5 linked regions of the Homo sapiens genome follow. The protein of the gene in region 4 interacts with the protein of the main gene of each other region in a pairwise test. Each region holds a gene or a part of one and is shown on either strand. Other genes may lie near its edges.

Region 1 (6,329 bases), on a different chromosome or scaffold from region 4:
CAGAAAGGTGAAGGGGCCTGGCTGAACTCACACTGCATGTGAGTGGCCAAGCTGGCCTGCTGATCTGGGCCTGACTGCAAAGCCCTGTGTGTGTGTGGTCTCTAGACAGAGTCTCTCCATTAACAATGCTGTCCGAGGACACCAGATGGGCAGATCTGGAGGAGCCAAGACCTGGAACTCAACAGGGGCAAGTGCTGGAGAGATGAACCTGGCACTGGTGCAATTAGAGGGAGCCCAACCAGAAGGCTAGACAGTGGCAGGTGACAAGTGGTGTCTGGTGGGCCCCTGCTGCCAGGAGACCCCTGCTCTCGAAGCCATGGCCTGCCATGCAGCAGGTGGGAGGCAGTGGCTGAGAAGGCAGGCCATATCCGCAGTCAGCATGAGGCCCAGGTGGTTGCTGGGGGCCGAGCTCTGCTTCCTGGAGGTGTGAGTCCCCACCCGTATGTACACAGCCTCCCACAGCTTCAGGAAGCCCACAGCCACAGGGGCTCAGCAAACGCAGGAGCAAACTCACTTCCCCATGCCCATTTCCTCCCCCATCCCAGCTCCCACCTGCTGTTCCTCCATCCAGACCTCTCTGGCTTCACATCGAGGTTGCAGTGAGCTATGATGGTGCCACTGCACGATCCTTTTCTATTTTGTGCTGTTCAGATTTAAGAAACTCCCTTTGTGAAACTTTATAAATAACAGTAGGGAATTTCTGCTTATAAAACAAATGCATATAAATATAGCCTATTAATTTTCATATATATATATATATACATGCACATGGGCAGGCATGATTTTTTCTCTCGATTGGGGATTGCACTGATCATTCCTTTTTGTAGCCTGCTTTTATCACTTCTCAGCGTATTGTGAAGTGTCCACATATGGAGGCCTCATGGCAGAATTGCACGGCTCTTCAGAACAGAGGCTCAAGTCCCTGCAGGCCTGGATTTCAGACCCTGGCTCTATCACTAATCAGTCTTGTAACTGAGCAAGTTACTCACCTCTCTGGGCCTTGGTTTCCGCATTGGTATAACGGAGATAATAGTACCTATCCACGCAGGTCTGATGAGAGGACTGAGGGAGGGCACATAAAAAGCTTAGAAGAAGACCTGGAACACAGTGAATGCTCAATGAGCATCAGACATTAGGATTGCTGTTGTTCCTGACCTCATGGCTGACTCCAGCCCCCAGCCCCACCTCATACCCCACATCCTGTAGCTGGATCCCAGCCTCCACTAAGCTCTAACCTGGGTCTCCCAGGGTGACCTTGGGTCCTCTGACTACTGAGCTGTTTGGAGGGCTGATGCCCAGTCACCTTCCAAGTGGCATCCAGTGGGATTTCTGAGAGGTTCTTCCCTGGGTTCTCAGTGACGTGAGGAATGAGAGGAGTTAGAAGATGGGGAAGGAGGAGGGAAAAGGTGAAGAAATAGCTATGATCGAGCCAGACCCTGCAAACCTGGCCCTGGATCTTCTCAAGTCTCCATTGCCCATAGGCCTCCTCCCCTGTGTCCACACCTGGGGTTTCCCCCTGAGTTGGTATCACAGGACGTGATGTGGCCCCGGGGAGAGAACATTAGTGTGGCTGCCCTCACATGGCCAGGATGGGTGAGGATCAAGTCATAACCACCCTTCCAGGGAGCTGCTAAGACTTAGGGCCATGGCTTGGGGCTCCTGGTGCTCACTGGCCTTGTGGGGGACCCACTGACTTTCAAGTGTAGATGTGGATGTGGGACCAGGGTTGCTATGGGGCAGTGGGCTCAGCTCTGGGCTCTGGGATCCACAGGAGATGAACAACTACCGGCGGGCCATGCAGAAGATGGCAGAGGACATCCTGTCTCTGCGGAGACAGGCCAGCATCCTGGAAGGAGAGAACCGCATACTGAGGAGCCGCCTGGCCCAGCAGGAGGAGGAAGAGGGGCAGGGCAAAGCCAGTGAGGCCCAGAACACGGGTGAGGATGTGCAGGCCACCAAGGGCACCCGGGCTTCTGCCTGGGCCCAGGCTCCAGGTTGTGCAATAGGGTGGCTGGGAGCTTCTCCCAGATGTGCATGCTGCTGGACTCTGGCAAATAGGAGCCCCTCGCCCACAGACACTCACACAGTCCCTGCCCAGCTGGGTCCTCTCAGGGATGGGAAACAGAGAATCCAGTCCCGTCCCAAGCCCTCGGGCCAAGGGATATCTGCCTTCCTGCTACTGACCATGCTGATTTGAGCTGGGAGAGGCTTCCTCCCTGAGCCAGCTCCCCAACCCACCTAACAGTGTCCATGAAGCAGAAACTGCTGCTGAGTGAGCTGGATATGAAGAAACTGAGGGACAGGGTGCAGCATTTGCAGAATGAGCTGATTCGAGTGAGCTGGGGCTTGTGGGGGCAGAGGGGAGGGAGCTATGGTGGGGGAGCATCGGGGTGAGAAGAGTCTGGGAGGAGAAGGGAGAACAGGCACAGAGGGAATGGAAGCACGGAAGAAAGGGGGACCAGCCTGGTGGAGGATTCAGCAGAGGGGCCGAGGTGGACCCTCAGGGCCAAGGTGGACTCCCAGGCACCCATTCTCTCCCCTTCTCTCCTCCCCCATCTCACAGAAGAATGATCGAGAGAAGGAGCTGCTCCTTCTGTATCAGGCCCAGCAGCCACAGGCCGCTCTGCTGAAGCAGTACCAGGGCAAGCTGCAGAAGATGAAGGCGCTGGAGGAGACTGTGCGGCACCAAGAGAAGGCAGGTGGCAGAGGGGCTGCCCCCGAGGCCAACTGATGATGGCAGAGTAGGGAGCCCCTGGGCCAGCCCAGCCTCTGCTCTGCTCTCCAGGTGATCGAGAAGATGGAGCGGGTGCTGGAGGACAGGCTGCAGGACAGGAGCAAGCCCCCTCCTCTGAACAGGCAGCAGGGAAAGCCCTACACGGGTGGGTCCACACCCTGATGTGATCAGCTCCCCAGCTTCTGCTCCACCCCTGGAGGCCCTGCCTTCCTGGAGCCTCTCAGCTTCAGGAGAACCTGCGAAGAGGTCCCCTGCACTCAGTTATGTCTGTGGGCCTGGGAGACCCAGGATTGCCCTGCTCCCCTCCTCATTCAGGCGCCCCATCCAGAGATCCCCTGAGCTCCCTCCTTCCCTGGAAGCCCCTCAGAACACAATTGGGATGCAGTGTGAGCCAGGCTAGAAAGAGGGTGGACCTCCAGAGGAGGGCCCTGCAGACTAGCACAGCAGAGAGGGCCTTCCCCTGAAGAAGGGCCACCTGGGGCAACACTTCCCAGCTCCTAGCCCCAGGATCCGTCGAATTATTTCCCCATACCGCCAAAGATTCTGCCTCTGCAAAGCAAACAAACAAAAATACTTTGATTAAATCAATGATCTGGGGCCAGGCGCAATGGTTCATGCCTGTAATCCCAGCACTTTGGGAGGCCGAGGAGGGCAGATCACTTGAGGTCAGGAGTTCAAGACCAGCCTGGCCAACATGGTGAAACCCCATCTCTACTAAAAATACAAAAATTAGCTGGGCATGGTGGCGGGCACCTATAATCCCAGCTACTTGGGAGGCTGAGGCAGGAGAATCACTTGAGCCCAGGAGGCAGAGGTTGCTGTGAGCCAAGATTGTGCCACTGTACTCCGGCCTGGGTGACAGAGGGAGACTCCGCCTCAAAATAAATAAATAAATAAATGATTTGGAGGTTTTCTTCCCCATCGATATTAACCAAAAGCCACCTAAAACTGCCAATCAGCCTCTGATAAGCAGAAAGGACCAGGTAACACCATATCAGGCCAGCCCAAAGCAAGGGATTTCCCTGAGCCTGCCTGTGCAACCTCACCCAGGGCCCCTGTGTGCCCAGCCCTGTGCTTAGCCTTCACCGCTGAGGGTCTCAGGGGCAGGAGGGTGTTTCTAGGAGCCTTTAGAATGCAATGAAAGCTGGGCTGGCCTTTCAGGAAGCCTGAGGTCATCCAGGAGTCTGGATGAGACTGAGAAGGCAACCTAGGGAGGGGAAACAGCCAGATCAAAGGCCCAGGGAGTGAGAAGAATTCCAGGATCAGAGAAGGGAGGAAGAGAGAGAGGTGAGGAGCTGAAATACACTGAAGACAAATGAGGAGTTAGAGAGAACGTTGAGGTCAGGTTCTAAAGAGCCTAGAAGGACAGCCTGTGTGCACCTGATCCCACTGGTGGTAGGGAGCCATTGAAGGCTTGGGAGTAGAGGGGAGGGGTGGCAGATTGAAGCAAAATGCTGGAGCAGATCAGGACAGGGACATGGGAAGCAGGAGAGCCCATCTCACCAACATCTGTGGCCGTGTCTCTAGGCTTCCCTATGCTCTCAGCCTCTGGCCTTCCCTTGGGTTCTATGGGAGAGAACCTGCCGGTTGAACTTTACTCGGTGCTGCTGGCAGAAAACGCGAAGCTGCGGACGGAGCTGGATAAGAACCGCCACCAGCAGGCCCCCATCATTCTGCAGCAACAGGCCCTGCCGGTAAGAGGCCCTTGACCTGGGCCTGCCTATGCCGGTCACTGGGTGCCCAGAAATCACCCATGGTACAACCCAAGTTGAAGATCAAGACCAGGAGCTAAGCTTCCCAGGGTCTCCAGTCTGCCTGGGGGCTCCTGGAATCAGCTCTCAGGCCTTGGTCTTTTTCTCCTGCGGAATGTGTGTCCCCGAACACTTCACCTTTAACCTCATCTAGCATCCCAGGAGAAAGCAAGCCCCTTGTTGACCCTTGGTCCCTGAACCCTGACCCCTTTTTCACCTGGCTGGCCTCCACCTGGACCCTACACAGGCCTCTCAAAACTCCCTTCTGGAGCATTCCCTGGTCTTGGTGCAGCCTTGGAGAGCCCTTTTCCATCCCAGGTGGACCCCGGGGAGTTGGGAGCAGGAGGAGACTTGACAGAGAGGCTACAAGAGACGCATGGCCCAGGCCACTCAGAGTGCACAGAGACCCTGCCCGCACAGGTGGGTGGCCCAGGGCCCAGAAATGCCCAGGCCCTGCTCCACCTCTGAAGATGCTTCAGGGGCCCCTTGCTTTACATAAACCCCAAAGCAGAACATTTGGAATCACAGAATATTGGGCAGGGCAGGGGCACAGGAGAGTTTTCTCTCCATCCCAGGACTCGCCGGAGGTGAGTTCTGTTGAAAGCACACCTGACTCATGGACATCCAGGTAAAGTGTGAGGGATGAGGTCAACTGCCTCACAGGTTCTTCACTTCACTCAAAGACTCCCAGTGCGTTAATTATAGGGGGCTCCCTAATGCATTTTACATTAAAAAAAATGTTGTGTCAAAACTTCGTATTCTCAAAATCTGTGTGGGAAACAGCTGTGAAAAAAGCACATGCCAGACCCTGTTCTGAACTTCCAGAAGAGGGTTCGGCCCAGGTCTGACGCTCTGCCTCGGGAGCTCAGTCTGAACTCAGGCCTGACTGGTTTCTTCCTCAATACCTTATGGTTTCCCAAGCTCACACTGCCACAGCCTCCAGCTGGGGCCAAATGTGAGTTTGTGCTTTGCCCACAGGATCTCCTCTCTGGTACTTCAGACAAGTTCAACCTCCTGGCCAAGCTGGAACACGCTCAGAGCCGGATCCTGTCCCTGGAAAGCCAGGTGGGTGAGATGCAGGAGTTGATGAGGCTGGATCAGGCTCACCACACAGCCTATAACCAGGGCTCAGTGTGTGAGCAGAGTCTAGGCTCAATCTATGACCAGGATCAAGGCTTAGTGTGTGGCCAGGGTCGGGGTTCAGTGTGCAACCAGGGTCAGGGCTCAGTGTACAACCAGGGTTAGGGTTCAGTGTGTAACCAGGGTCAGGGTTCAGTGTACAACCAGGGTTAGAGTTCAGTGTGTTACCAGGGTTAGGGTTCAATGTGCAACCAGGGTCAGGGTTCAGTGTACAACCAGGGTTAGGGTTCAGTGTGTGACCAGGGTCAGGGTTCAGTGTACAATCAGGGTCAGGGCTCAGTGTACAACCAGGGTTAGGGTTCAGTGTGTGACCAGGGTCAGGGTTCAGTGTACATCCAGGGTCAGGGTTCAGTGTGTGACCAGGGTTAGGGTTCAGTGTGTGACCAGGGTCAGGGTTCAGTGTACAACCAGGGTCAGGGTTCAGTGTGCGACCAGGGTTAGGGTTCAGTATACAACCAGGGTCAGGGTTCAGTGTGCAGCCAGGGTTAGGATTCAGTGTGTGACCAGAGTCAGCGTTCAGTGTGCAACCAGGGTCAGGGTTCCGTGTACAACGAGGTTAGGGTTCTGTGTATGACCAGGGTTAGGGTTCTGTGTATGACCAGGGTTAGGGTTCAGTGTATATCCAGGGTCAGGGTTCATTGTGTGACCAGGGTCAGGCTCTGTCTATGACCAGAATCAGGGATCAGTGTGGACTCAGGATCAGA
Region 2 (6,270 bases), on a different chromosome or scaffold from region 4:
TCCTTCCTCATTCCATGCTTGATCAAACCCCAGCCTTGTGGTCTATGAATATTCATGTTTGAATTAGCTGAACCTTTCTCAGATATGATAAGCCAACTTCTGTGCTGTGCTTTTGCTTCAGATCTTGGGTAGTAATTTGGTCCCTGTGCCAAAGGAGCTCAGGTTGTTCAAGCAGCCACTTACCTTTTGCAGAGATGTGTTTTTTTAGTGTAATAGTCTGGGACTCTTGCTGTGGTCTTTCTTAAATGGATTTTGGTTTATATGGAATGGGAATTGGTGAAAGGGGCAGGCTGTAATAGGTTTCAGAAGTTTGGGGACAGTTGTATAGAATTTGTTCTGCCTATCATTTTGAAGCCATAATATTTTTCACTTTCAGTCAGGAGTGGGTCCCACGAGGCTATACACTCATTTTCTGACTTTGAGAACCAAATGAAAGTAGAAACCCAAAATCAACTTTATGACTGACTACTCATTACTTAGCATCAAACAGTGAAAGATGTATTTATTAGATATCTGTTGCCATGTAACCAGTTACGCCCAAAAGTCAGTGGCTTAAAACAATAATAAGCATGTATTATTTCACACTTTCTGTGGGTCACATAATTATGGAACAGCTCATCTGGTTGGTTCTGGCTTAGAGTATTTCTTGAGATTGTAGTCAAGACATCAGCCTGAGCTGATGCTCAACTGGGGCTGGAGGATCCCCTTCTAAGATGGCTTATTCACATCACTTTTTCTGGTTAGTTTAGGCTTTTGGAAAGAGGCCTCAGTGCCTTACCATGTGTTTCCTCTCCATAGAGATGTTGAGTGTCCTCACAACATGGCAGCCAGTTTTCCTGAGTGACCGATCCAAGAGAAAGTAAAGTGGAAGCCATAATGCCTTTTATGATCTAGCCTCAGAAATCACCCACTGTCATTTCTGCAACATTTTATTGGCCACACAGGTCATCCTGTGCATCATAGGAGGAGACTACACAAGAGTGTGAATACCAGGAAGCAAGGATCACTAGGGCCATCTTGGAGGTTGGCTACCATACACCACCATTCTTTTCCCCCCTTTTGTTGAGAAGAGGAGTAATGCAAATAATGCTGGAAAAATAGAGAAAGATAAAAGGATATAGAGTGTAAAACAAGTCACCTCCCTCTCGTTTCCTACAAGCTGTAATTCTGCACAGGAAGGCTAAGGAGCATGGAGGCAGGGGCACAGATAATATTAAACCAACTAAGCTTCTGCCATTTTTAAGCGATAATGACACCTTTCCCACTAACTCCAAATTCTGAGCCAAGGAGAAACAGACCCAAATGTCAGAATAATAGAGATGAGAATGTCAACCTCGTTACTGGTAATGTTGGATTGAACTTGTGGCCATAGCCCTCCCCTCCATGTCTGGACCTTGGGACTACCTTCCCAAGGGATAATCTGGGTATGTGGGGCAGATTACCTTCCTCAGAATTGCTGCCTCGCCCATGTCAAACACCAGTGTAAGGGACGTAGGGACACAGAGACAGACTTCCAGACTCACCTTCCTGACCTCTGTGTGCTTACAACATAGAGGTGGAGCAGAGCCTCCTTAGCCTGTGGGCAGGCGGTTCAGAGAGGACTGAACCCCCCCTGCTCAGCTACTTCTCCCAGTCTCACCAATCAAATAAATTCACTCCTGTTTCCTTGGAGAAGAGGGAGGGATAGAAATGATACCCCTCTCGGGAAATGAAATGAAACTCTCCTTTATGGCCAAGATACAAACACTGGTAGGGAACAAGGATGGCTGTCCTTGTTAAGGTCACTCAGATGAACCAGTCTGGGCCATCAGTAGTGGGTTGACACACATATCCAAATCCAGTCTTTGTTAGTACTAAGTCTCTACTAAACAGAAAATAGCAGTATTTTGAGTTGTTTTACAATCATAAATGAATTAATGTTATTTCCTATTTATGTTGAAGGTTCGTGCAGACTAACAGTACACCATTTTTTAAAATCACTGCTTTGAATCGCCTTAACCAAAATCTCTTTCTTTTCTAGGCACAGGGTGGTGGTTTCCTATCCTCCTCAGAGTGAGGCAGAACTTGAACTTAAAGAAGGAGATATTGTGTTTGTTCATAAAAAACGAGAGGATGGCTGGTTCAAAGGCACATTACAACGTAATGGGAAAACTGGCCTTTTCCCAGGAAGCTTTGTGGAAAACATATGAGGAGACTGACACTGAAGAAGCTTAAAATCACTTCACACAACAAAGTAGCACAAAGCAGTTTAACAGAAAGAGCACATTTGTGGACTTCCAGATGGTCAGGAGATGAGCAAAGGATTGGTATGTGACTCTGATGCCCCAGCACAGTTACCCCAGCGAGCAGAATGAAGAAGATGTTTGTGTGGGTTTTGTTAGTCTGGATTCGGATGTATAAGGTGTGCCTTGTACTGTCTGATTTACTACACAGAGAAACTTTTTTTTTTTTTTAAGATATATGACTAAAATGGACAATTGTTTACAAGGCTTAACTAATTTATTTGCTTTTTTAAACTTGAACTTTTCGTATAATAGATACGTTCTTTGGATTATGATTTTAAGAAATTATTAATTTATGAAATGATAGGTAAGGAGAAGCTGGATTATCTCCTGTTGAGAGCAAGAGATTCGTTTTGACATAGAGTGAATGCATTTTCCCCTCTCCTCCTCCCTGCTACCATTATATTTTGGGGTTATGTTTTGCTTCTTTAAGATAGAAATCCCAGTTCTCTAATTTGGTTTTCTTCTTTGGGAAACCAAACATACAAATGAATCAGTATCAATTAGGGCCTGGGGTAGAGAGACAGAAACTTGAGAGAAGAGAAGTTAGTGATTCCCTCTCTTTCTAGTTTGGTAGGAATCACCCTGAAGACCTAGTCCTCAATTTAATTGTGTGGGTTTTTAATTTTCCTAGAATGAAGTGACTGAAACAATGAGAAAGAATACAGCACAACCCTTGAACAAAATGTATTTAGAAATATATTTAGTTTTATAGCAGAAGCAGCTCAATTGTTTGGTTGGAAAGTAGGGGAAATTGAAGTTGTAGTCACTGTCTGAGAATGGCTATGAAGCGTCATTTCACATTTTACCCCAACTGACCTGCATGCCCAGGACACAAGTAAAACATTTGTGAGATAGTGGTGGTAAGTGATGCACTCGTGTTAAGTCAAAGGCTATAAGAAACACTGTGAAAAGTTCATATTCATCCATTGTGATTCTTTCCCCACGTCTTGCATGTATTACTGGATTCCCACAGTAATATAGACTGTGCATGGTGTGTATATTTCATTGCGATTTCCTGTTAAGATGAGTTTGTACTCAGAATTGACCAATTCAGGAGGTGTAAAAATAAACAGTGTTCTCTTCTCTACCCCAAAGCCACTACTGACCAAGGTCTCTTCAGTGCACTCGCTCCCTCTCTGGCTAAGGCATGCATTAGCCACTACACAAGTCATTAGTGAAAGTGGTCTTTTATGTCCTCCCAGCAGACAGACATCAAGGATGAGTTAACCAGGAGACTACTCCTGTGACTGTGGAGCTCTGGAAGGCTTGGTGGGAGTGAATTTGCCCACACCTTACAATTGTGGCAGGATCCAGAAGAGCCTGTCTTTTTATATCCATTCCTTGATGTCATTGGCCTCTCCCACCGATTTCATTACGGTGCCACGCAGTCATGGATCTGGGTAGTCCGGAAAACAAAAGGAGGGAAGACAGCCTGGTAATGAATAAGATCCTTACCACAGTTTTCTCATGGGAAATACATAATAAACCCTTTCATCTTTTTTTTTTTCCTTTAAGAATTAAAACTGGGAAATAGAAACATGAACTGAAAAGTCTTGCAATGACAAGAGGTTTCATGGTCTTAAAAAGATACTTTATGTGGTTGAAGATGAAATCATTCCTAAATTAACCTTTTTTTTAAAAAAAAACAATGTATATTATGTTCCTGTGTGTTGAATTTAAAAAAAAAATACTTTACTTGGATATTCATGTAATATATAAAGGTTTGGTGAAATGAACTTTAGTTAGGAAAAAGCTGGCATCAGCTTTCATCTGTGTAAGTTGACACCAATGTGTCATAATATTCTTTATTTTGGGAAATTAGTGTATTTTATAAAAATTTTAAAAAGAAAAAAGACTACTACAGGTTAAGATAATTTTTTTACCTGTCTTTTCTCCATATTTTAAGCTATGTGATTGAAGTACCTCTGTTCATAGTTTCCTGGTATAAAGTTGGTTAAAATTTCATCTGTTAATAGATCATTAGGTAATATAATGTATGGGTTTTCTATTGGTTTTTTGCAGACAGTAGAGGGAGATTTTGTAACAAGGGCTTGTTACACAGTGATATGGTAATGATAAAATTGCGATTTATCACTCCTTTTCATGTTAATAATTTGAGGACTGGATAAAAGGTTTCAAGATTAAAATTTGATGTTCAAACCTTTGTATGTCCCTTGTGTCAGTCCTTAAAATTTTGCTTTTTAAAAAAACAAAACAAAACAAAAAACACGGGACACATTTGACCTAATTTGTACCTCACAAAAATTCTTTGCATACATCTCAAGCGGAAGATGTCTACAGGAATCAATTTGGTGATTATGACACATTTTACCTCTGCAACTAACAAACCTTGTTTATTTCTCCAAGAAGCTTAAAAAGAGTTTGTGGAGTCGCACGAGGTCATGTATGGCACTTGTGTTCCCCTCTTCCTCTTCCAGTTACTAAAATAATCTGGTGAGTGCTAGTTGTCTTAGCCATAGAAGGAAAAGCAGACCTATCAACCAATAGTATGATAACCCGTAAGTCTCAGCATGGCTTGGGGACAAAATCTTTAGATTCACCATGGTTTTAATTTCCCATGAAATGAAAGGCCCATGTAAGTCATGTTAAAAACTATTTTCTTATTAACTTTTGGCTACTGTCAAATGACTTATCAGAATTGAAAATCAGGAATTCTAGGTTGTATTGTAGCTTTTCCAAAAACTATCTCTGTAGCCACCTGGGCAAGTTGATTATTACTTAGTTTCCTCCTTTTGGTGTCCCATCTACCCCACTGGGTGAGGATGAGGAGCAAAGGAGATAATCTCACTGTTTTTGAAAAGTGCTATTTTAATGTGTGGCATTAAGTTTATCTCTGGTTTCAAATATTCATCTCACTCTCTTGGAGTATATGATATAATGCTTTTCAGGGTCTGATTGGTTTTAGAAGGAACAAATTAAGGTGATGTTTCCAACTGCTATGCATTTAACTTTCTGTTCCTATAATAGAACATATTTGCATACCTCCAGAAGAACATTCAATTCTCTGAATATTTCAATCCAGAGCTATAAACAACATTAGAATTCGGCTTTGGAAATTGTGTTTAATAGATGTTTGACTAAGTTTAATAGATGTTTGACTAAGTTTAATAGATGTTTGACTAACAACTCTTTGTGTGTATTCATCAAATTTTTAAAAATGTGTTTTGAATCAAACTATGTCATTATCAATGTCACATCCTATTTAAATTACTTTTTTTCCAGGAAAAATAATTAGCAGCCTACCAAAATCAATAAGATATTTATAAGAGATTAGTCATGTCCAGGCAAAGGGGTGTAGCCCTCGCTAACTCCCTGTGGCTGCAGGCTGTAATGGGGTATGCTGGGGAACTTTGCCCTGTCCATTAGTATCACCAGAGGCAGGAAGGAGCTATTAGAGTGAGTAGTCACCTGCCAATGTGAACAGCGACAGTTTTAAAATACCTTCTCTCAGGTTTACAGATGAACATCCCTTGGATTCCTTTTGTGTTTCCTACTAATAAATTTCTGATTTGGCTACTTTTCCATTTCAGAAACACCACCTGCATCTCACTCAGTGCAAATTCTTACTGTACTATGGCCATCCAGGCTCTGTAACCATGCTGCAGGCACCTGCGAGTGGCATTAATCTTTGAGTCCCATTCAATACTATTATAGAGTCAGACTATTCTAATAAGTCTCCAAAGATAATGGAATTATCCCAGCCAGTAACCAGTGAGCCAGCTGCCACTTCTATTGCCTACACCTTAGATACGAAATTTGGTTCCAAGAGGTCTCTGACCTTGGGGTTGAATCTTTCAAGCTCTGAATCCTTGTGAAAGTACTAGAAGAAGCCATGATAGACTTTGGCATGAGAGGGCATTCCTAAATATGATTCAAAATTTAGAAACTGTAAAAAAAAGAAAACCTTGATAAATTGTACAAAATATCAAAATAGTTACATGACAAAACACCATAATCAAAGTCA
Region 3 (6,671 bases), about 31 Mb from region 4:
CTAACACAGTCCCTATCAAACCTTTGATCAGTACTCCTCCTGTTTCATCACAGCCAAAGGTATGTCACCTTTGAGGGACATTCGGAAAAGAAACTACTTACTTTTGGAAAGTCAATAACATTTTAGAATCTGTTATAGAAAAAGCCCTCTGAGAATGAGGTGTAGTGGTGGAATGAATGACAGGTATGATAGTAGATGCAGCCTAGAATTTCTCAGTTCACTGAGGGATAGAGGGGGGCTTTGAATCTGTGCTACTTTAATAAACCATCTGAGTCTGTTCCCTAATGGTTTTGGGATTTGTCACATGGAGAGTGAGATAAAGAGGATATACTGAGTCTTAATATTTGTAGAATTTTCAAACTCCAAAAGACATGAATGAACATGTTTTCCAGTGACTTTTCCATATTTGTATTTCAAAAATGAGGCAGTTTCTGTGCTAAGAACTTAATGTATGTTTAGCTTTCACATCGTGAGAATCACTTGCTTTATTTAATAGATGAGAAAATCAAACTCTCAGTTAAGTTTTTGTGGTAGAGTCAGAATTTGAAACCTAGGTGTTTGTGAATACAGGGACCCATTTTACTAAGCTTATATTGCCTGTATTTGTCCCAGCAGAATCTTACATGGTTGGCTCCATAGGTGCAGTTAGAAAATTGCTGGTCTAAATGGTAAATGTAGGGGGAATTTCTTTTGAGTAGTTTTGAAACAGTGGGCTGTTTCAGACTTTTTAATGCCAAATAATTCTTTGTAAGATATTAAGCAGAAGCCCAAAAATAAAAATGCATTGAAATATAACTTGAAAGAGGTGGTTGGTCAGCTTTTAAGTCTTCCCGTTTGTTCATCCCTTCCCTACCTTGGCCATTGATCATTGCATGTTTTAGGGTCAATTTAGATTGATTTTTAAAATTCCAAGTTACAGTTGTTAGTTTATTATGCAGTTCCTTATCATTTGCCAGTATTTTAAGGAGGAAAGAATTAAAATGTGAGTTTTGGCAAAAGAGATGTTATTTTTGGAGCTTAGAACTTGTCTTCAGGGTGGCATTTTAAGAGTATAGTAAATAGTGGTTAAAAGTGAAATAAGTGGTAGTATTGGTTTTATAGTCACTTGTAAACTGAGCATTTCAACTCCTTTAAGAAGGCTGGGCGCGGTGGCTCACAGCTATAATTACAGCACTTAGGAGGCCAAGGCAGGAGGATTGAATTAGGCCCTGGGCAATATAGCAAGACCCCATCTCTACAAAAATAATTTGAAAATTTGCTGGGGGAGGCCGAGGCAGGCAGATCACTTGAGGCCTAGAGTTTGAAACAAGCCTGGCCAACAGGCAAAACCCGGTCTCTACTAAAAGTACAAAAATTATCTGGGTGTGCTGGCACAGACCTATAATCCCAGCTACTCGGGCGGCTGAGGCATGAGAATCACTTGACCTGGGAAGTGGAGGTGCAGTTGAGCCAAGATCACGGCACTGCACTCCAGCCTGGGCAAGAGAGTGAAACTCTGAAAAACTTTCTTGGGCATGGTGATGTGCACTACTCAGGAGGCTGAGGTAGGAGAATCACCTGCGCCTGGGAATTCAAGGTTGGAGTGAGCCAAGATCACGTCACTCTGCACTTGAGAGTAGGCAACCAGACTAAGACCCTGTCTGGAAAAAAAAAATCCTTTAAGCAGGTAGCTGTTCGTTTTTTGTGTTCCAAAAACTTCTTCAAGTTGTTTTTAAAATAATTGAACATTTGAGCTTTTATGTAGTGCTTATAAAATGTTCTTTATAAGACTTGACTAGAATTGATAGGTAATATTCAGAAGTTAAGCAGGACATTCCAGATTTGTTAGGGAGAATTATTAATCATATCCCCTCACCCCACCAAAAGAAAAACAGCAGTGAGGTGTGACTTAATCACAAAGGACTCCATCTGCCTTTGTGCCTCAATTTAGAGCTTATATTTTAAACTGCTTTTCTCTATGTGGCTTCTGAATATAATACATATCCTGATTGGCAATCATGGACTTCAGTCTACCTCTGTAGAGTAACATCTCTTTGAAAAACTCTCATGTTGAACTTTATATGGGCCATAACTCATTTTCTGATAGCCCAATCACATATTTCTCCATATCATTAAAATCTAAGCATCCATATGTGTATGATGTGGTAGCATACATAATTTACTTTTATTGATATAAAAGTAACAGTAAATCAGAAGAGATAATAATGTATTGGAAAGAAAACTGAGCTGTAAAGGAGAACTAGTTACTTTTTTTTTTTTTGAGACGGAGTCTCGTTCTGTCGCCCAGGCGGGAGTGCTGTGGCGCGATCTCCGCTCACTGCAAGCTCCGCCTTCCGGGTTCACGCCATTCTCCTGCCTCAGCCTCCCGAGTAGCTGGGACTACAGGCGCCCGCCACTGCGCCCGGCTAATTTTTTGTATTTTTAGTAGAGACGGGGTTTCACCGTGGTCTCGATCTCCTGACCTCGTGATCCGCCCGCCTCGGCCTCCCAAAGTGCTGGGATTACAGGCGTGAGCCACCGCGCCCAGCCCTAGTTTGATAGGGAAGTAATTTTATGACCTTGGGCCATTTTCACAAAGAAATGAGATCTAAGTTTCAGAACTTGACTGCCACATTTTACATGTTTCAAGACGATTACCTAGATTTTGGGGGGAGAGATGTGGATTAGATTTGGAGACCATCTCACCAGATTTTGACATTTCAGGTTAGTACTCCAGTAGTTAAGCAAGGACCAGTGTCACAGTCAGCCACACAGCAGCCTGTAACTGCTGACAAGCAGCAAGGTCATGAACCTGTCTCTCCTCGAAGTCTTCAGCGCTCAAGGTAGGTTGATATTGTATATTGAGACCACATTGTTTTATTTAATGATGGTACACTGCATTGTTTGAATATTATATCTGTAAAATAGAACTTAACCTTTAAACTCCATGAATACCCTAAAGTAGGCTTACATGTTGTAAAATTTACAAAGACAAACCTGTATACAAGAGGTAGGTTATTGTCTCTAGTAGTGAAGCCCGGGTTATTTTGAAGAAAGTGGCTCTTTAAAATTTTACACAGTGGAATATGACGGGGCTAAAGATTTGTGATACTTGTACCAGAAAGGCACACGATTTTACAATATTTGTTGGAATTACCTTACTTTTTAACCTCCTCATAGCAGTTTTGGTTTGAGTATATTGATGAAAGCCAAAGTCTGGTATCTAAAACTTGGGCCAATGTTTCCCAACTGGTATATGTCAGGCTTTCCCAATAGCTTAACTGTGACCCTATACGGATGGCTTTTTAGATAGTTCTATACTGCTGTATTGTGTTAGCACTTTTCTTTGTTCATTAACAACACAACTTTAAATGACATTTGTTGAATGAATGGTTTTCATTTGATTGATTTTCCTGTTTTTTATTTCATGCTATGAGGTAGCAAAATAATTCAACTGTTGTTTTTATTGTTGTTTTCTAAACAAGCATTTCAGAACTTACACCTCCAAATGAGAGTTGTTCCCTTCAAAATAATGACCTTGGGAAGCTGTCTACTTACTCCAGCAATGTTGCCATTGCTCTGAACATTTTTGGGAAATTCTTCTTTTAAATTGTTTTTAGAGGCTGCAGTATTATTTTAAATATCCTCAGTGATGAAAACTCTTCATCCTTTGGGAGATTTAGTTTTTGGAAATAACTGAAATTCATTCAGAGCCAAGTCTGGTGAAGCAGGTAGGAGATCAACTTGGGTGATTAAATTTTTTGGTTCTCACCACCATATCCCCAACCCTGGCCCAAACCATTCAGTTTTAAAAGAAGATAAAGAATCTCAGAGTGTTATTTTTTTGGTTTTGTTTTGCCACTGTGCTTGTTCAGTGCTATCCAATAAAATGTCTGTATTTTGCTTCACATTATTTCACCCTCTGATTCAGCAGTTCTGACGTTGAACAAAGGCAATATATATTTTCCCCTTATCTAGATGTGTATGAGCAGTCTTCAGATGTGCATCTACAGCTGTTAAAATGTGACTTTTTTTAGTTATATTATTAGTGTTTGTGGTACACAAAGTTAACAGGTTCTGCTCTCAGATTTGGAGAGTAGTTTACATTTGACTCTGACAGTAGTGTTAAAAGGGTTTTTTCCCCCTAAAGTGTTTTGAGGAATCATATACTTTGGATTATTAATTCTCTTTATTTGACATTAAAATAACAAATTTTTCTTAGGAATTTGGATATCTTTAAGTTAATAAAAGGTATTAACATGCAGTTTCTAGGATAAGGATACCCAGAAACTACTTTTAAACATACTACACATTCAATTCTGTTTTCTAGTAGCCAGAGAAGTCCATCACCTGGTCCCAATCATACTTCTAATAGTAGTAATGCATCAAATGCAACAGTTGTACCACAGAATTCTTCTGCCCGATCCACGTGTTCATTAACGCCTGCACTAGCAGCACACTTCAGTGAAAATCTCATAAAACACGTTCAAGGATGGCCTGCAGATCATGCAGAGAAGCAGGTATGTTATGTACAGCCTAGATTTTACCTTTGGATGATTAGCAAAACAGAATTTAATCAACTTCTAGAGAATCTAATGTGACCACTGAATTCAAGCAATATTTAAAATAATGAATCTCTAACTTTGTAGTCATTTAAAAAATATTTGATATATAAGATAACTTTTCTGGTTTTACAAAATATTTTAACATAATTATAGGCACTGTTGTCAAGTACTCAGCAGTTAGCTCAGTGCTTAATGCCTTATATTTATTTTCTCTACTTCTTAAAACAGCTAAGCAGTGTAGATAGAGTTGAAGTCCTTAAGACCAAATAGTGCATAAGACCTTGATCCCAGGGTCACCCAGTTAACAGTGATGTGGCTCAAAGCCAGTGTACTTTTTCCACTCAGCTTCTCTGATAGTTTCAGATTCCATTAGCACTGTTAATCTACTGGCCAAGCGCAGTGGCTCATACCTGTAATCCCAACACTTTGGGAGGCCAAGGCAGGTGGATCACTTGAGGCCAGCCAGGAGTTCGAGACCAGTCTGACCAACATGGTGAAACCCCATCTCTAACCACAAGTATAAAAATTAGCCAGGCATGGTGGCATGCACCTGTAATTACAGCTACTCGGGAGCCTGAGGCACCAGAATTACGTGAACCCAGGAGGCAGAAGTTGCAGTGAGCCGAGATTGCACCACTGTACTCCAGCCTGGGTGACACAGTGAGACTCTGTCTCAAAAAAACAAAAAAAAACCCCACTTAATTTTCTATGACTCTCTCACTAGACTAGCAACTGGAAGTTAGGAAACATTTTTGCTTTGGGATGAGAGACCTTAGGACATTCCAGTTACTGCCATTTGCCTCTTGCTTTTTATCAGATAACTGACCATCTGGGGTGTTCGAAAGTTTACAGAGAATATGTTGTGTGTCTTACGATAGAGGAGTATAGTGAGGCTCTTGAATCAATATCTAATACCTGAACTTGCAGAAATGACAATCTCTTTGGCTGACCCAGCATCTTTTATTAACCACAAATTATGAGTCCTTTCTTAGTGCTGTATTAGCTTCAGGTTGGAAATCCTATTTTCTCCAACTTAGAAGAGAAATATTAAAATAAGTACCTTCCACCCTTAGAGACAGTTTCTTAAAACAAATTAATTTTCCCCATTAGGTTCACCAGCATTTTTGTGTATTGAAGGGAAAAGGATTATTCTCTAATCCTAGTATAAAATTGTACTCAGAAATTTAATGTTTTATTTTGTGTATGTTAATGTTTATATTTTATGTTTTCTTCATTTCTTTAATTACAGGCATCAAGATTACGCGAAGAAGCGCATAACATGGGAACTATTCACATGTCCGAAATTTGTACTGAATTAAAAAATTTAAGATCTTTAGTCCGAGTATGTGAAATTCAAGCAACTTTGCGAGAGCAAAGGTAAGTCTTTCACTGAAATATATTTTTATGTTTCTCAGGATTATGATTCTTAAATCGAACTAAAGAATGTAAATCACATTTTATTTATGAAATGTAAAGTTCTCTTCGATACATTGATCACATTCTATCACTGCATTTTCATAAGTTAATATTTCTCGTGAAGGATAAAGCCTGTCGATTTTCTCTTAACCCATGATGAATGCTTCATTAGACTTTTCTCATAACTCCATAAGCTGCAATAATATATTACTGAAAAAATGAAATATTGACCACAACTAATTATAAATGTCCTCTCTTGCTGAGGGTGTTTCCATTGAAATTTCAGATTATTTGTCCTTGCATCATCAATAGATCCCTTGAAAAGTATAGAAAGAATTTGTCTAGCAAGTTTAGTGTATCTGCTGTCTTAGTATTTTTCACCTGAACTCTTGTCTTGTATTTCTTAATCTAGTGTTTCACTCAAGTAGAATATCTAGGTCACAATAATAATAGCATAGGTATTATTTTTTAATGCCTATTACAGAATTGAGGACAAACTTGGCAATGGCTTTATGTCCTGTCTGTGCAAGTCACAGAGTTACAGGTCGATTGAATCTTGTCAAGAAACCATAAATATTTAGTAAATACCAAATGGAGTTTATAGTACAACTTGAAAAAGTAAGTTTATTTACAGTTACTAAAATATCTGGAGGTACTCTCTGAGTAACAACTTGGGTTCTTATAGTCAGATTGCTCTGAAAGTAGTTCTAA
Region 4 (3,500 bases):
GTTTTAATTGGCGGAACTGTTATGTTCACTTTGGCTCTAAGTATATAGGATTTGGAATTAGGTGGGCAGGAAGTGGTGGGGAAACTGATAAAGAACTTCAGGGGAAATTAACCAAGGGACTCAATATGATTTCCTCTAACTTCTCTGCTCTTTAATGTCAGCCAGAGCTCCTCAACAATGCTGAAAAGTTGAGATTTTTAAAACTGAAAAAACAAGAGGCCCTGCTCTTTTCAGGGTTAAAGATAATATAGAGTCCTGTAGCACTGCCAGCCTATGTAATGAAATACAGTAAGTCCTCACTTAACATTGTCAGTATAGTTCTTGGAAACTGACTTTAAGTGAAACAACATATATGAAAATCAATTTTACCAGAAGCTGATTGATATAAACAAGAGTTAAGTTCCTATGACATATTTCTGGTCACAAAAACATTATCACACTTCTAAATAAAGACCCAACATACTTCTGATATTAAATATTGAAACAAATATGAGTTATGCATATATTAAAGATTAATGAAAACCGTATAATTACCCCATTTTTAGTGAATCAGTGAGTGATGGTCATAGTAGTGATGTGTTAAATCAAGGGATAAATGTTTGCAAAGTAAAAATTGTAAGGAGCACCTCCTCCCAACTCACAGTTCAAAAGCAAATAGTAACAATTACAGCGGCTTGCTGAATACTTGCATACTGCATCATTGATTTTCATGTGTTTGTATGATTAGCATATACTTTATGAATTTGTATTTTACAATAATTTGTACTCATTCATTTTCTAACGTGCTTATTCCAGTTCAGATCAAGGGTGGCTGGAGCCTGTCCTGGCAGCTCAGGGCACAAAGCAGGACCCAATCCTGGATGGGGCACCAACTCATTGTAGGACACACTCATACACACACTCTTACTCACTCCAGAGGGACTATGTAGACATGCCGATTGCACATCTTTGGGACATGGAAGTAAACTCGAGTATCTGGAGAAAACCCACACAGACATAAGGAGAACATGTGAACCCTACATAGACAGAGGCCCCACTGAGAATCTGCTTCCCCCCCCCCCGTCAACATTATAATAAAAGGACGTTGAACATTCAAGGACCTACTGTACTTGAGAATCCACACGGCTGAGCTGGGGCTTCCTGTGTTGCCTGCATCATGGAAATAAATTAGTAGAGCAAATTGGGACAGCAAACCCAAGTTTCACACTCAGGGTGCCCACGTTTGCTGAGGTGGGCAGTAGATTGATAGCTGGTAACTCTACCAACAGATGCCAGGAAGGAGCCGAGATTCACGTAGAGCTCCAACCCATGTTTCCTGATCTCGTCTGTTTCCAAAATCGCTCATAGACTCCCTAAACTGTCCTTATTTCCCTGGCATCAGCTACCCCCAACTCTGCTACTCCCAAGTATTGTTGGCAAAGGAGATAGGCCCACAAACCACAGCTTGATTTGCCCTAAATCCATGTTTCCCTCAAGTTCCTCTGTACTTGCTGGTTGGACAGGACCCAGCAATTTTGGCTGCCATGGTGACCGATATCCGTTCCTATCTTGGTGGCATGACTGCCTGAGTCATGTCATCTTGCAGGCTAGTGGTTTCCTCAGCTTTAAAATGATGATTTGCCATGCTGCTTCTGGCTCTAAATGCGTGTGACGGAACTAGCCCCGACTGAAGACAGCTACTGTCTTGACATTGGGCAGGGAATGACAGAATGGATAGGCCAGAAAGGGACCACAGGCATCATCCAGGCCAAACTTCTCATTTCATAGATGAGGGCATCGGAGCTACAGCAGCTGAGTGACCTGCTCAGAGTCACATGCCTCATTAGTTACATATGGGTAAAGACAGCTTTGTCTTGATTTTGCTTCTCAGAGTTATTGATTAGTATTATGAGTATTTACTCTAAAAGTAATTGAGTATGCATTTCTCCACTAGACATCATACCGCAAAATGATGCCTGCTTGAATTTTTTTCTTGCTTATCAACTACCTCTACCTCCTATGATGCTTTTAAACACTGGAATTGGGATCCTTAAAGGTAAATGCCTCATAGTTATTTGTTTAAATAAACATAATTCTGAGGCTGGGGGCAGTGGCTCACACCTGTAATCTCAACACTTTGGGAGGCCTAGACAGAGGATTGCTTGAGGCCAGGAATTCAAGACCAGCCTGGGCAACGTAGCAAGAACTCATCTCTACAAAAAATAAAAAATTAACCAGGTGTGGTGGTGTGTGCCTGTAGTCCCAGCCACTTGGGAGGCTGAAGCAGGAGGAATGCCTGAGCCCAGTGGGTTAAGGCTACAGTGATCCATGATCGTGCCACTGCACTCCAGCCTGGGCAACAGAGCGAGACCTTGTCTCAAGAAAAGAAAAGAAATGACTGTGGATTGTACTTCAAAGCTTGGCCAAAGTGTATGATGAATGCAGAGAATCACAAGGTTTAATAGGAGTCATATAAGGGTCCCACAATTTCTCATTGTTGCTGCAGGTAGGAATTGTTTAACATTCTGAGGAGCATTTGCACGTTAGTGGGGTCCCAACTTTGCGGCACAATATATTTGACTTATTTTGACACCCTGCACCTCCTCCTTTTTGCCCTTGAACTGTTCTTCAGAATCAAATTCTGCCATGCAAAAACAACATATTTTGAAGCTCTGTTTCCAGTTTGCTACATAATCATGGCTTATTCACTTGTCAAATAAGCCCTCTAATATATATTGATGGCCTATAAGGTGCCAGATGTTATTCTAGATACTGAGGATGTACTAAGGAATGAAACAGACAAGACAAGTCCCTTGTAGGACTTACATTGTGGAGGGCTGGAACAGAAATAGAACGGATATCCAGATATAGTGATTATCATAGCCAAAAAGTGTTGAGTGCTTTCTAAGTGCCCATTAGTTATCAATGGTTTACCTAGATTTACAAATGTAATGCTCACTGTAATCCAATGAGCCAGACATTATTTTTGTCCCTTACTTTGCAAATGGTAAAATTATATCTAGTAATTTTCTCAACATTTTCTAACTAGTGATTGATGGAGCTGGGATTTGAACCTAGGCATTTGGCTCAAAGTCTATGATCATAAGACAGAAGTGTAATTACAGGAGTCTCCCCCCAATGCATTGGCTGCTGTTTTGTGACTGTACCTGTTTGTAGGAAATATTTTAAATATTCAAATGGCCAGTTGTTTCTACAGCTATTTTTATGGCTTTGAGAGGAGAAAAGAAAAGCCTAGAGCTGTGTCGTCACAGGAGAGTTTTTCCCATCTGTTTGAGACCTCCTTTTTTTCTCTAAACTTAGAACATAATGATATCATTATCCTTATATCATTTCCTCTCAGGTCTTGATTGTTCAGGTTCTGAGGCAGCTGATTTTATGCATATTCATTCTGGCTCAGATGTGGAACAAGTAGCTGCTCACCTTCATTGGCTGTCCTGTGCTCCTGTGTGAATATGGGCAAGTCTTTTGCTCTCTGTGAGCTCCTTAAGGACCTTGGGTGG
Region 5 (6,671 bases), on a different chromosome or scaffold from region 4:
TGAGCGTGTCCGTGTCCTGATCTCCCCTTCTTAGAAGCACATGCCGGTATTAGATTAGGATCCAGCCTAAAGGCCTCATTTTAACTTAATTACCTCTTTAAAGATCTTGTTTCCAAATATTATTACATTCTGAGGCATAGGGGTGGAAGCCAAAAATAAAATTAGAAGGCCCCCTGCAGCTGTCTGAATGGACTTCCTCCTTGGCCCTTGAAATTTAACCTGAAAGACTGGTTCAGGCCGTGACAGGAAGTAGGGGTTGGACAAGCCTCATTGTACCCTCCAGCATTAATATCTACACAAACCTTAAATCTGATAAGAAACATTTACAGTCTATTCTCTCTAAAGCCTGCTACTTGGAGGTTTCATCTGCCTGACAAAACCTAGGTCTCCACAACCCGTTATCATGACCCAGACATTCCTTTCTACTGATGATAATTCTTTCAACCAACTGCCAGGCAGAATATGTTTACCAAAAATACAGAAAGTAGCAGGGCATTGTGGCACGTGCCTATAATCCCAGCTACTCAGGAGGCTGAGGCAGGAGAATCACTTGAACCTGGGAGGCAGAGGTTGCAGTGAGCCCAGACTGGCCACTGCACTCCAGCCTGGGCGACAGAGCAAGACTCCATCTCAAAAAAAAAAAAAAAAAAGAAAGGCCGGGCACGGTGGCTCACGCCTGTAATCCCAGCACTTTGGGAGGCCGAGGCGGGTGGCTCACGAGATCAGGAGATCGAGACCATCCTGGCTAACATGGCGAAACCCCGTCTCTACTAAAAAATACAAAAAATTAGCCGGGCGCGGTGGCGGGCGCCTGTAGTCCCAGCTACTCGGGAGGCTGAGGCAGGAGAATGGTGTGAACCCGGGAGGCGGAGCTTGCAGTGAGCCGAGATTGCGCCCCTGCACTCCAGCCTGGGCGACAGAGCAAGACTCTGTCTCAAAAACAAACAAACAAAAAAAACCAGATATTTACTTTTCTAGCTTTAATTATAGATAAGGTACAGGCTTGTGACCCAAGCTTGACCTACTTCAGACTTTCAGTCAGGAGCTAGAGCTACGAGGAAACAGGAAGAGAACAAAGGTCTCCAACCCCCAGTTTTGCAGACCGGTACCAGCTCCTGGTCTATTAGGAACCAGGCGGTACAGCAGGAAGTGAACAGCAGGTGAGCGAGCATTACCACCTGAGCTCTGCCGCCTGTCAGATCGGCAGCGGCATTAGATTTCATAGGAACATGAACCCTATTGTGAACTGCGCACGTGAGGGGCCCAGGTTGTGTGCTCCTTATGAGAATCTAATGCCTGTGATCTGAGATGGAACAGTTTTATCCTGAGACCATTCCCCCAACCCTCCTGTCTGTGGAAGAACTGTCTTCCACGAAACCTGTCCCTGGTGCCAAAAGGCTTGGGGGCCTCTGATATCGAGTACAGTCTGGTAATTTGTGGCAACATCAGTAACATTGAGTTTGTAGGGGAAGGAGGAGTGGCACAGCAAAAGCAGTAGCTGTCTTGTGCTGGTGAGGCTGTACCATCTACTTTTCCATGACAACAGTATTCTCACAAGTCTGGTTTCCTAGTGTGATCCTGGCTGTGGTCCGGAATGTTGCTGCCCTAGTTTCTGTTTTATTTTCCAAGCCTACTTCTGTGACTATCAGTTTCCCTGGAGCTACCTGGTCTCTTGTGTAAATGAGCCAAAGTCAGTTTCTATTGCTGGAAACCTAAAACAAACTTCACATTTCTTATAATCTTCTTATAAAGCCACCTGCCACAACCCAGATTCTCATCTTGCATTTTAAAAATACAGCTTAGACAACAAGTGTTTCTAAGTGAGAACATTATAAGCATTTTGAGTGGAGTTGTCTTTCCTTATGCAGCACTCTCTCATCCATTTCCAGATGATTAGCAGCCTTGATCGCTCTTTTTTTTTTTTTTTTTTTTTTTTTGAGACAGAGTCTTGCTCTGTTGCCCAAGCTGGAGTGTAGTGGTGCGATCTCGGCTCACTGCAAGCTCCGCCTCTCAGGTTCACGCCATTCTCCTGCCTCAGCCTCCTGAGTAGCTGGGACTACAGGCGCCTGCCACCAAGCCTGGCTAATTTTTTTTTGTATTTTTAGTAGAGACGGCATTTCACTGTGTTACCCAGGATGGTCTTGATCTCCTGACCTCGTGATCTGCCTGCCTCAGCCTCCCAAAGTGCTGGGATTACAGGCGTGAGCCACTGTGCCTGACCCTGATCTCTTTTTTTAAATGCCGGCAGGACTCCCTTAGTCACTGTGAAAAATGAAACACCCTCACACATTGCTACTCACTCTAGGGAGGTGGGAGGAGATACCACACGCTAACGAGAACAACTGGATGAGATGATTGATAAGATGTGTTTCAGGTCTGGAGTTCTAGTAGTCGGTCATTTTATCATTTCTTAATATTTAATGACTTTGCCAGGCTCATTTTTTTTTTTTTTTTTTTTACTTTTTAAAATATACTTTCAAAAAGATACATGTGCTTCCAGCTTCTGGTAATAGAGAAATAGCTCCTTTCAGACTAATTCATCTGTGGATAACTACTACACTCTGGATAAAATATAAGAAACCTTAAGGTACTGGAGAGAAATCAAAAGCAGACAGATATTAGACACCTGTGTATATTTGGAAGAAGGAATTGTCACCAGATAAATTTTCTGTTTTTTACAGCTTTTTGCCTGGGAGTAGGCCACAGTCAGCACCAACAGAATAATCAAAACTTAGTCACAAACTTGCAGTCTTACTGGTGTGAATAACCACAAGATAGAGTTTGAGGCAAACTTAGCAGTTGGAAAGTGAGAGGAGGAATCTTGGAAAGGAGAGAGGCAGAGAAGGGAAGCCCCAGATTCTGTGCACAAACTCTGCCCAAATCTCTAGCTGACCCCTGAACCATACATGCACAGGACAGACTCAAAGTAGCCCAAATAAGAACTGAACAAAGATATTTGATGCTGCCCACTAGAGAGGTGGCAGAGTTCGGAATTTGACTCCAACTAAATTAACTACCTGCTTAAAAAAGTCAGTACTCTTCAAAGGAACATAACAAAATCCAGAGTTTCTACACATTGTGTACTGTACAATTTCCAGGATAAGGTAGGCATATGAAGAAATGGGGAAGTGTAACCAAAACTCAAGAGGAAGACAATCAATAGAGACAATGACCCAGATGACCCAGATATTAGAATTCACAAAGATTTTAAAGCAACTACTATAACTGTGCTCAAGGACTTAAAGGAAAATATACATGTAAAGAATGAACTAATAGGAAATGCAAGCAGAGAAATAGAGATTGTGAAAAAAGTAATTCTAGACTATGAAGTTTTAGAACTGAAAAATAAGATACCTGAAATTGTAAAAAAAAAAAATTACTGAATAGGCTTAACTTTTGGAAATGAACATAAGGAGAAGTCAGTGACAGTTGAAGGTAGATTGACAGAAATTATCCTATCTGAAAAACAGGGAGAAAAAAGGCCCTCAGTTACCAATTAAATGATATTAAAAGGTCTAATATACATGAAATTAGAGTTCTAGAAGGAGAGGGGACAAAGAATGGACAAACTATATTAAAAGGAAATAATGGCCTAAAATTTATCAAATTTGGTAAAAAACATAAATTTACTGATTTATAACATTTGATGAATCTCAAGCAGGATAAATACAAAGGAAGTCACAGCTACACACATCATTGATCAGTGACATGCAATAGAAATATAGTGTGAACCAAGAATGCAAGCCACATACCTAATATAAAATTTTCCACCAGCTACATTAAAAAAGTAAACAGAAGCAAATAAATTAACTTTAATAATATATTTTCTTTGACCCAGTAGATCCAAATATTATTTCCACATGAAATCAATATAAAATTATTGAGATAACTTGCATATATGTTTGTGTATGTATGTATGTATATGTTGTATGTGTGTGTATGTATGTTTTTAAGTAAATAATCTGGTATGTATTTTATACAGATAACATATCGCAATTCAGAAGAGCCACATTTCATGTACTTAGTAGCCACATATAGCTAGCTGGTTTCTACCATATTGGGGAAAGTCATAGAGAAATCACAAAAAACAAAGATTTGAAAGGAGGCTGAAAAAAATTGTACTACATACAGAGAATCAATATTTGAATGACCGCTGGCTTCTCATCAGAAACAACAAAGACCAGGAAGCAATAGAATGACATTTTACATGCTGAAAGAGAGAGACAAAAAAAATCAACCCAGAATTCTATATCCAATGAAAATACTCTTCAAGAATCAAGATGAAATAAAGCCATTTTCAGGTAAAATAAAATTAAGCTAATTCATTGCCAGCAGGCCTGTACTATAAGATACACTAAAAAGGAAGTTATGTAAGTTAAAAGAAAAATATACCAGAGGGGAACTCTGATTTTAGGAAGAATGAAGAGCATTAGAAATGGTAGCTATCTGGATAAATATAAAATACTTTTTTTCCTTTCGATTTCTTTAAAGTGCAGCTGATTGCTTAAAGCAAAATAATACTATTGTATTATAGGAGGGGGTTTACAATGTAGGCAGCTATAATACAAATAACCACCATGAAGATAGAATTTATTTACATCTGGACTGGAAAAGCTCTATCTTTTTCTCTAGAAAAGCTCTATTTTTATCTCTGGGAATTCTTGGTGGTCTATTTTTTTGACTCTTGGCCAAAACAAGATAAAGGCAGCATGGTTTTTTGTTGTTGTTGTTTTTTGTTTTTTGTTTTGTTTTTGTTTCTGTTTTTTGAGACAGAGGGCTGGAGTGAAGTGGTGTGATCTTGGCTCACTGCAGCTTCCCTGGGTTCAAACAATTCTCATGTCTCAGCCTCCTGAGTAGCTGGGACAACAGGTGCATGCAACCAAGCCTGGCTAATTTTTTGTATTTTTAGTAGAGATGGGGTTTCACCATGTTGCCCAGGCTGGTCTTGAACTGCTGAGCTCAGGCAGTCCACCCACCTTGGCCTACCAAAGTGCTAGGGTTACAGGTGTGAGCCACTGAACCCAGCCATCAGCTTGTGTAAGTTTTTGTTGTTGTTGTTTTGTTTGTTTTTTCAGAAAGAGTCTCGCTCTGTCTCCCAGGCTGGAGTGCAGTGGTGTGATCTTGGGTCACTGCAACCTCTACCTCCCGGTTCAAGTGATTCTCCTGCCTCAGCCTCCCGAGTAGCTGGGACTACAGGCACGTGCCACCATGCCCAGCTAATTTTTGTATTTTTAGTAGAGATGGGGTTTCACCATGTTGGCCAGGATGGTCTCCATCTCTTGACCTCGTGATCCGCCCGCGTCAGCCTCCCAAAGTGCTGAGATTACAGGTGTGAGCCACCGCGCCTGGCTAATTTTTGTACTTTTTTTTTTTTTTTTAGTAGAGACAGGGTTTCACTGTGTTGGCCAGGAAGTTCTCGCACTCCTGACCTCAGGTGATCCGCCCACCTCTGCCTCCCAAGGGGCTGGGATTACAGGCGTGAGCCACCACACCCGGCCTGGCTTGTGTATTTTTAAGATCTCAATGCCACTGGCTACTCCTGGTAAGCTTCCTTACTGATGGCTTGCAACTGGCCTAAATGATTTGACAGGACTTGCTTGATTACATAAAAAGGCCCCTGCTGAGAGTTCCTCCTTTGAGCTCTCCCACACCAAGATTCTTCACACAGACCCAGAGTCATGGCGTGGTCTGTGCAAATAAGGGAGACAGCACATGGAGTGTCTCTTGGCTTTCTAGTGCTTCCCTGAACTCTCTTTCTCTTGCTGTGCTGTACCCTTTGCCTTTCAATAAAAACCTTGACATGAATACGCTCAGTGAAGTTTGGTAAGTGCTGTCAACTCTCTGAACTGGGAAAATCTTTGTAAAACTATAGCATAAAGAAGGGTGGTGATGTCCTATATACTTGCAAGATTCTTGCATTCTATGTGAAACGATATATTAGCTCTAAATAGGTGATGAGTAACCAAAAATGTACATTATAATTATTCGAGTAACCACTAAAAATACAAAGAGGTCTAACTACAAAGTCAACATATAAGTTAAAATAGGCCAAGTGTAGTGGTTCACACCTGTAAGTCCAGCATTTTGGGAGGCTGAGGCAGGAGGTGGATCATGAGGTCAAGAGATCAGACCATCCTGGCCAACATGGTGAAACCCCGTCTCTACAAATATACAAAAAAATTAGCCGGGTGTGGTGGTGGGCGCCTGTAGTCCCAGCTACTCGGGAGGCTGAGGCAGGAGAATGGTGTGAACCCGGGAGGCAGAGCTTGCAGTGAGCTGAGATCGCGCCACTGCACTCTAGCCTGGGCGACAGAGTGAGACTCTGTCTCAGAAAAAGAAAAAAAAAAAATAAGCTGGTGGTATGTGCCTGTAGTCCCAGCTACTCAGGAGGCTGAGGCAGGAGAATTGCTTGAACCTGGGAGGCAGAGGTTGCAATGAGCTGAGATTGCACCACTGCACTCCAGCCTGGCAACAGAGCAAGACTCCATCTCAAAAAAAAAATTATAAATAAAATAAAATAAAATAAAATGGAATTTAAGAAAATTCAAAGCAAAGGAACACACATACATACACACAATCTCCCTAACTGTAAAAAACTGTAAGCCTAATGATAGGGCATAAAGTAATAAGTGAAAGATTGCTTTTCTGCCCCTCTCCACAAATATCAAAGA

What was found.
Region 1: the proteins of CCDC6 (region 4) and CCDC33 interact in a two-hybrid assay, tested with the Homo sapiens proteins (one large-scale study listed by BioGRID).
Region 2: the proteins of CCDC6 (region 4) and SH3RF1 interact in a two-hybrid assay, tested with the Homo sapiens proteins (one large-scale study listed by BioGRID).
Region 3: the proteins of CCDC6 (region 4) and WAC interact in a two-hybrid assay, tested with the Homo sapiens proteins (one large-scale study listed by BioGRID).
Region 5: the proteins of CCDC6 (region 4) and ZNF354C interact in a two-hybrid assay, tested with the Homo sapiens proteins (one large-scale study listed by BioGRID).

What each region holds. Positions count from the first base shown.
Region 1 is NC_000015.10:74,328,418-74,334,746, forward strand, and holds part of CCDC33 (coiled-coil domain-containing protein 33), read left to right. Parts: intron 1-1,771; coding exon 1,772-1,937; intron 1,938-2,245; coding exon 2,246-2,334; intron 2,335-2,563; coding exon 2,564-2,695; intron 2,696-2,785; coding exon 2,786-2,879; intron 2,880-4,261; coding exon 4,262-4,428; intron 4,429-4,803; coding exon of another isoform or gene 4,804-4,905; intron 4,906-5,463; coding exon 5,464-5,550; intron 5,551-6,329.
Region 2 is NC_000004.12:169,092,438-169,098,707, reverse strand, and holds the end of SH3RF1 (E3 ubiquitin-protein ligase SH3RF1), read left to right. Parts: intron 1-2,020; coding exon 2,021-2,189; 3' UTR 2,190-4,449; downstream 4,450-6,270. UniProt on the Homo sapiens protein: Has E3 ubiquitin-protein ligase activity. In the absence of an external substrate, it can catalyze self-ubiquitination. Stimulates ubiquitination of potassium channel KCNJ1, enhancing it's dynamin-dependent and clathrin-independent endocytosis.
Region 3 is NC_000010.11:28,611,864-28,618,534, forward strand, and holds part of WAC (WW domain-containing adapter protein with coiled-coil), read left to right. Parts: coding exon 1-59; intron 60-2,703; coding exon 2,704-2,822; intron 2,823-4,309; coding exon 4,310-4,499; intron 4,500-5,793; coding exon 5,794-5,921; intron 5,922-6,671.
Region 4 is NC_000010.11:59,816,057-59,819,556, reverse strand, and holds part of CCDC6 (coiled-coil domain-containing protein 6), read left to right. Parts: intron 1-3,500.
Region 5 is NC_000005.10:179,068,930-179,075,600, forward strand, and holds part of ZNF354C (zinc finger protein 354C), read left to right. Parts: intron 1-6,671. UniProt on the Homo sapiens protein: Transcriptional repressor that inhibits endothelial angiogenic sprouting. Suppresses osteogenic effects of RUNX2 and may be involved in osteoblastic differentiation.